Homo sapiens: one gene and its partner. The protein of the gene in region 1 binds, or shares a complex with, the protein of each later gene. Each region holds a gene or a part of one and is shown in the gene's direction. Other genes may lie near its edges.

Region 1 (3,954 bases):
TTCTACCTCCCGGGTTCAAGCGATTCTCCTGCCTCAGCCTCCCGAGTAGCTGGGACTACAGGTGCATGCCACCACACCCGGCTAATTTTTTATATTTTTAGCGGAGACGGGGTTTCACCGTGTTAGCCAGACTGGTCTCGGTCTCCTGACCTCATGATCCACCCACCTGGGCCTCCCAAAGTGCTGGAATTACAGGCGTGAGCCACCGTGCCCTGCCAACAGCTATGATTTATTGAGTGAAGGTGCCAAGCACTGTGCTAACTTCTTTTGTATACATTATTTTACTTAATTTTCAATATGCCCTTTGAGATAAAGACACTAATTTCCCCATTTTACCCTATATATACTGTTACCCTCCTACCCAAAATGTGGTCCTCAGAACATCAGCATCACCTGAGAGCTTGTTAGAAATGCAAAATCTCAGGCCCCACCTCACACTGAATCTGAATCTGAATTTTAACAACATCTGTAGATGATTCATATGCACCTAAAACTTATATGTTCTGTTCTATGGGATAGGTACCCATATTCCCATTTTACAAATATGAAGGCTGAGGCTTGAAAAGGTTCAGCTGGCCCCAGACCTCGCCTAGTAAATAGTGGAGCCATGGTTTGAACTCATATGCATCTGATTCCAGAGCCTGCATTCTGAACTTTCATGTATCCTGCTTGCCATAGGGAATAGAAGGGAAAAAATACTTTGTAGACCAAAAGCTTACAAAACTTTGGGCTTAAAGATAATTTACAGATTTTTCCTGTCCAACATTCTCATTTTCTAGGTAAAGAAATGGGTTCAGAGAGGTTTTGTGATTTACATTAGGTTAACACAAATAAAGCGTGGCAAAACCAGTTCTAGATCCTATGCGCTCTGATTTCCTGTTTGTTCTGTTTCTGTAATGTGGAAAGGGAACACAAAGGAAAGGAAAATAACTTCAGCTTATTCCTTAATGGACCAGTAATCTTTCTCACCACCCTTTACAAATTTCCTACTGATTTTGGTGGCTGTTGTGTACCATTTGGAACTTGGGATAATATAATTTATCTTATAAAGCTAGATAACAATGGAAGGCAATAGATACTCCTCACCCCTGTTCTAAATAGAAAATATGCTTTATGTAAATATATTTCTTTTTCCCTATGAAAGTAGATAATTAGCTGTATGTTAGTATTTTTCATAATAAAATGAGTGATTCTCAAGTGCTTATTTTACATTTTAAGTGTACCTATTCTTGTTCCTTTTTTTTTCTCTTTTCCTTTTTTTTTTTTTTTTAAGATAGGATCTTGCCCTGCTGCTCAGGCTGGAGTGCAGTGGCACAATCATGGCTCACTGCAGCCTTGAATTCCTGGGCTCAAGAGATCTTCCCACCTCAGCCTCCCGAGTAGCTAGGACTACAGGTTCCTGCCACTGTACATAGCAAATTATTATTTTTTGTAGAGGTGAGGTCTCACACTATGTAGGTCAGGCTGGTCTTGAATTCCTATCCACAAGTGATCCTCCAGACATGGCCTCCCAAACTGCTAGGATTACAGGCATAAGCCACTGTAACTGGTCCTCTCATTTCTTTTAATATGTTTTCCTTTTGCATAGGTGTTGTCTGGAGGATGGAGGAATAGACGTGTGGCATCAACATCAATGAACAGAGAATCGTCTAGGTCTCATGCCGTCTTTACAATTACAATAGAGTCAATGGAGAAAAGTAATGAGATTGTGAATATACGGACCTCCCTACTCAACCTGGTGGATTTAGCAGGATCTGAAAGGCAAAAAGATACCCATGCAGAAGGGATGAGATTGAAGGTAAGAATGAAATTATGGTCTTCAACTTGTGTGTGAGTTCTTACTAGCAGTCAATACAGTCGTGATGCATGACAGTGTCTCAGTCAATGAGGAACTGCATTTATGATGGGGGTCCCTTAAGAGTATAATAGCTATACCACATGGCTTAGGTATGTTGTAGGCTATACCATCTCGGTTTGCATAAGTATATTCTATGATGCCCACAAAACAATCAAATTTCCTAACAGCACATTTCTTAAAATGTACCCCTGTTAGCCGGGCGCGGTGGCTCACACCTGTAATCCCAGCACTTTGGGAAGCTGAGGCAGGTAGATCACGAGGTCAGGAGATCGAGACCATCCTGGCCAACGTGGTGAAATCCCGTCTCTACTAAAAAAATACAAAAGTCAGCTGGGCGTGGTGATGCGCGCCTGTAGTCCCAGCTACTTGGGAGACTGAGGCAGGAGAATCACTTGAACCTGGGAGGCCGAGGTTGCAGTGAGCTGAGATCGCGCCACTGCACGCCAGTCTGGGTGACAGAGAGAGACTCTGTCTCAGAAAAAAAAATGTATCCGTGTTGTTAACTGATATATGACCATACCAAGCTAAGTGTTTTGAGGGTGGCAAAGAAATAAGAAATTGTTCCTATTGAAAAGGAACAGAGATTTCTTTTGTGGAACAGTGAACATAGATGGGATAGGGCAAGTCTGTCAGTAGCAAAAATGTTTTAATTCATACCAGAGGGGATAAGGGTACAAGAGACAACAGGGGTCAGAGGAAGAAGGGTGCAATATGGACTGCTTGTGGAACATGTGGAAAAGAAGTAGTTCTTGACTTGTGAAGGATTTCGGTAGGGAGAGAGAAACAGGAAATGCATGCCTGGCAGGGGGGCATCTCAAGGGTTATTGTGGATGCAGAATGAGTGTAGCATTTGGCATTTCAGCATGGCTCAATGGATGGGTTGGTTAGAGAGGCAAGCAGGCCCGGATTATCAAGGACCAGGAGTGCCAGGCCAAGTTTGTATCAACTCTGCGAATACTGGGAAACACTTAACATTTCTTAGCAACTAAGTGATTCATGAAGAAAGCCTGTTTTATAGAAACTTAGTCATCTGACCCACTGCTGTTAAGATTTTAGAAGGGAGAGCCCACAGAAAAAGATGACCACTTACGCTGTTTAATATTTCAGGTATGAAGGGTTAAGTATCTAGTCCTAGGCTAAGGTATCAACAGTGGGACCAGAGGTTCTATGTAATATGTATTGTCAATATGTGTTTATATATATATATATATAGTAATACGAATTGTCAATAAAATATTTGTAGAGTCTATAGTTTAGAATATACATGGGCAAGGGGAGAGGAATTGGAAAGGATGAGGGAAGAGATCTACTTTTTTCATTAAAAGTGAGGATTTGAGTCGCCTGACCTACATTTGAGGCAGTTTCAGGCAATCTGAAGCTCATATTTTTTTGTTTTGAGACAGTCTCACTCTGTCACCCAGCTGGAGTGCAGTGGCATGATCTCGGCTTACTGCAACCTCTGCCTCTCTGGTTCAAGCAGTTCTTCTGCCTCAGCCTCCCAAGTAGCTGAGATTACAGGCGCCCACCACCACACCCAGCTAATATTTTGTATTTTTAATAGAGATGGGGTTTCACCATTTTGGCCAGGCTGGTCTTGAACTCCTGACCTCAGGTGATCCACCCTCCTTGGCCTCCCAAAGTGTTGGGATTACAGGCGTTAGCCACCACGCCCAGCCTAAAGCTCATATTTCTATTGAGATATGAGGCTTAATAAATATAGCATATGGGTTGAGCATGGTGGCTTATGCCTGTAATCCTAGCACCTGGGAGGCTGAGGTGGGAGGATCCCTCGAACCCAGGAGGTCGAGATTGCAGTGAGCTGTGATTGTGCCACTGTGCTCCAACCTGGGTGACAGAGTGAGACTCTGTGTCAAAAAAAGCATATGCTTATAATAGGACATATACCAAGTCTGTTCTAAAATGCTTTACATATATTAATTCATTTAACCTTCCCAACAACTCTGGGAAGTAGGTGCTATTCTTTCTATTTTACAGTTAAAGAAACCGAAGTCACACAGCTAATAAAGGTAGAGCTGAGATTCAAACCGAGCTGCTACAGTACTCTCAACCATGCCACTAACCACCTTTCTGATTTA
Region 2 (3,600 bases), on another chromosome or scaffold:
TAGTTTTATGCTCCCACCTAAAATTTTTTCACTATTTTTATAAGATGTTAATTTCTTGAGTACTTTATTTATAACATGCCTGTACCTTGGGTAAACCAAGTAAACTTTTTTTTGTCTTAGGCAAAGTTTAGACTGTTCGTATGATGATACACTTTCTTTTTTATGTGGGTTTTTTTTTTTGCTTGTTTTTTATTTTTATTTTTATTTTTGAGACAGAATCTTCCTCTGTTGCCCAGGCTACATAGCAGTGGCACCTTCACAGCTCATTGCAACTTCCACCCTCCTGGCTTAAGCGATCCTTCCACCTCAGCCTCCCAAATAGCTGGGACCACAGGTGCCTGCCACCATGCCCAGCTAATTTTTGTATTTTTAGAGAGACGGTGTTTCACCATGTTGCTCGGGCTGGTCTCGAACTACTGAGCTCAGGCAATTCTACCCACCCCAGCCTCCCAAAGTGTTGGGATTACCAGTATAAGCCACTGTGTCTGGCCTTTTAAAAATTTTTGCATGACTTTTCATCTTTTTATGTGTGTTTCCCATTTGTTTGATATGAGGGAAAAATTTCTAATAGCTTGAGAATCAAGGGGATGGGGATTTTGGTTGTAGGCATTTTATAATAATTAACCCCTTAGCAGTGGTGTAGAAAAATAGGTAAATTTTTTGTTTCAAGACTTAAAACTACCTCAAGAAGAACAATCTAATGTAACAGTATTTGTAACGCTTCCAGAGGTCTCAGATGAGGAATTTTTTTGTAAATGGTTTGGAAGAAGATTAAAATATCCTGGGTTAGCGTAGTAACATTACGGTAGGATCCTTAGGTTGATGCTGACTTTTGTTTGGGGTAAGTTTATATTTTGTGTGGTGTTTATTTACTTTTTTTGAAGAGGAGGATGTAGTAGGAGCAGTGTTACAAATCAGTTTAAGTAATGGAGTAGACCCTGTTGTCAGTGGGGCATAGATGAGTTATGAGGGCTAAAGCTTGCTCTGATGGTCTCTTTTTGTTTTGTTTTCTTTGCTTTTATCTTTTGTTTTACATTTGGGGAGGGGAGAGATTTTCCATTAAGGAAGGTTATTGCTAGTGGATTTGATTCCAAGGGTCTGGGGTGTCACAGTAGGGTTGGGGAGGGGCTGCAGGGTGATCCTTGGCTACTGAACCTCCACAGAGAGCATGTGGTGCCCCTGCCCTTTCAAGATAATTTACTCTCTTGTTAGTTTTGCAGGCCACCTCAGATTCTCTGTTGAATTGCTGTTAAGAAATACAGACCAGTGTTGTTTCTGGGCTCTCGTTGGGTGAGGTTTTCCTGAGTTTTATGTCTCTTCTTAGTTCACATCGTGTTACCCAGAACACATGCTTCACTGTCTTCTGAACAGGCAGTACTCCTGTGGCTCTGTGTCTTGGCTTGTTTAGTTTTTTTCAGCCTTGAAGGCTCCTTCCCACACTTACTGACATCCACTCATGTTCCTGGTATGACCTGGATTGCTGCCTGGTCCCTGCAACCTCCCAATGCCCTTTCTGCTGCATTCCCAGAGCACAGGACTTTTCTCTTTTCTACTGACCTTGCTTGGTTCTCCCTTGTGGGTTAGTAATTTCTGTCTGTCTCTTTGCCCCTCACTAATTGTTCACCCATGAGAATTAGGTATTATTCCTTTTAAATATACAGGGACCATATAGTCTTTATCTTTTATACATGATACTTATTACTCAATTTTGTGTGTGCAAGGTATCTGGCACATGGACCTGTGATTAGTAGCCTGAGGTCAACAAATCTCAGTTAGAATGCGTAGGTTAAACAAAGCTTTTTTTTTTTTAAATTTAATTTAATTTTATCTTTATAGAGATGGGGTCTCACTATATTGACCAGGCTGGTCTCAAACTCCTGGCCTCAAGTGATCCTCACATCTCGGCTTCCCAAAGTGCAAGGATTATGGGCATGAGCCACTGAGCCCAGCCTAAACAAAGCTTTTAAAAGCTCCTGCAACCTCAAGGTTGTTAACCTGGTCATCTCATGGTAATTAGAAACTCTGATTGGCTGCTTTAGATTTCTTGATTAAAAACCTAAGTAAACTGATTAAGTTTTAGGCATTCTTTCAAAGGTTTCTCAGTGAAAAGATTGGGAACTATTCTATTTGGTGCTTTGTGAAAATATTTTGAATTAGTATATGTGCCAGTTATTGCCATTTCTTAAGTCCAAAATGTTTTTCTGGTCAAATAAATAGCAGTTTTTCAAAAACAAAAATTAGCTGTGTGTGGTGGCATGCATGTGTAGTCCCAGCTACTCAGGAGGCTGTGGGAGGACTGCTTAAGCCTGGGAGATCAAGGCTGCAGTAAGCTAAGATGGTGTCACTGCACTCCAGCCTGGGTGACAGAGTAAGACCCTGTCTCAGAAAAAAAAAAAATTTATAGAATGATCCTATTTTTGTATAAGACTAAGTATACACACACACACACATACTTACATTATATATACACATATAGTAAAAAGTTTATATACATGTGAATATATACAAATACGTATGTATGTGTGTGTATATGGAAGAGTTTTGCAAGTATCAGTTAATGGGAATTCATGATATTCTAACTGCTTTGTCTTAATCTGGTGTATTCTCCTTGGGGAACTACAGAACTTGGCTCTATATTATTTATCAAAAGAGATTGATATTACATTAGATTATCAAGAGATTTCTGTCTTCTCTGGGTTCCAGTGCCTTAGGAATAATTTTTATCTGGTATTCCTTCTGATCCTTGTTATCACCAGTACACACTGGCACTACCATCTTGATTACTTCACTTTAGTAAAATTTCCTAGGAAATTAGTAGATTGCTGTCCCCACTCCAGGTTATATATGTATAGGAGTACTTTTTGTTGTTATTGTTCACAGATTCATTGAGTTGCAATTGGCATATAATAAACTGCACATATTTTTAAGGGTACAGTTTGATGAGTTTTGACATATATATTTATACCTGTGAAACAATCACTGCAATCAAGATATGAACATATCTGTCACCACCAAAAGTTTTCTTGTGCTCCTTTGTAGTCCCTCCCTCTCTCCTATATTCTTTTCCTCCCTTCTGCTTGCCCCCAACCCTGCATTTTGTAGAATTTTATTTTATTTTAGAGACAGGGTCTTACTATGTTGCCTAGGCTGGCCTCAAACTCCTGGGATCATGTGAACCTTTCACCTCAGCCTCCTGAATAGCTGGGACTATGTAGAAATTTTATTTTATTTTTGAAGACGGGGTCTGGCTCTGTCACCCAGGCTGGAGTGCAGTGGTGGGATTTCGGCTCACTGCAACCTCTGCTTTCTGGGCTCAAGCCATCCTCCCACCTCAGCCTCCTAAGTAGCTGAGACTACAGGGTCACACCACCACGCCCAGCTAATTTTTGTATTTTTTGTAGAGGCAGGGTTTCACCATGTTGCCCAGGCCTCAAGTGATTCGCCTGCGTTGGCCTCCCAAAGTGCTGGGATTACAGGTATGTGCCACTGTACCCAGCCTATGTAGAATTTTATATAAATGAAATCATATTGTATATACTCTTGTTTTGGTATACCTTTTTTCCACTCAACATCGTTATTTCATTCTGTATCTACTGAGCT

Evidence for each region.
Region 2: the proteins of KIF15 (region 1) and KIFBP are in contact, whole or in part, in a cryo-EM structure (PDB 6ZPH), measured with the Homo sapiens proteins. Residues at the interface, in NP_064627.1 of Homo sapiens: Leu187, Glu189, Ile191, Lys192, Lys193, Arg231 (codon at 1,640), Glu232 (codon at 1,643), Arg235 (codon at 1,652), Arg271 (codon at 1,760), Met280 (codon at 1,787), Arg281 (codon at 1,790), Leu282 (codon at 1,793), Lys283 (codon at 1,796), Glu284, Ala285, Gly286, Asn287, Asn289, Arg290, Leu292, Ser293, Gly296, Gln297, Ile299, Ala301, Val303, Asp304, Val305, Gly306, His312; in NP_056449.1 of Homo sapiens: Lys26, Tyr33, Lys36, Ile106, Glu109, Ile147, Ser150, Glu151, Glu153, Thr208, His209, Tyr212, Tyr213, Gln216, Gln219, His220, Phe224, Gln238, Glu248, Trp249, Ile251, Asn252, Thr255, Gln258, Phe259, Asn262, Tyr415, Val416, Thr417, Glu421.

What each region holds. Positions count from the first base shown.
Region 1 is NC_000003.12:44,792,629-44,796,582, forward strand, and holds part of KIF15 (kinesin-like protein KIF15), read left to right. Parts: intron 1-1,588; coding exon 1,589-1,798; intron 1,799-3,954. UniProt on the Homo sapiens protein: Plus-end directed kinesin-like motor enzyme involved in mitotic spindle assembly.
Region 2 is NC_000010.11:68,991,803-68,995,402, forward strand, and holds part of KIFBP (KIF-binding protein), read left to right. Parts: exon of another isoform or gene 1-66; intron 67-3,600. UniProt on the Homo sapiens protein: Activator of KIF1B plus-end-directed microtubule motor activity. Required for organization of axonal microtubules, and axonal outgrowth and maintenance during peripheral and central nervous system development.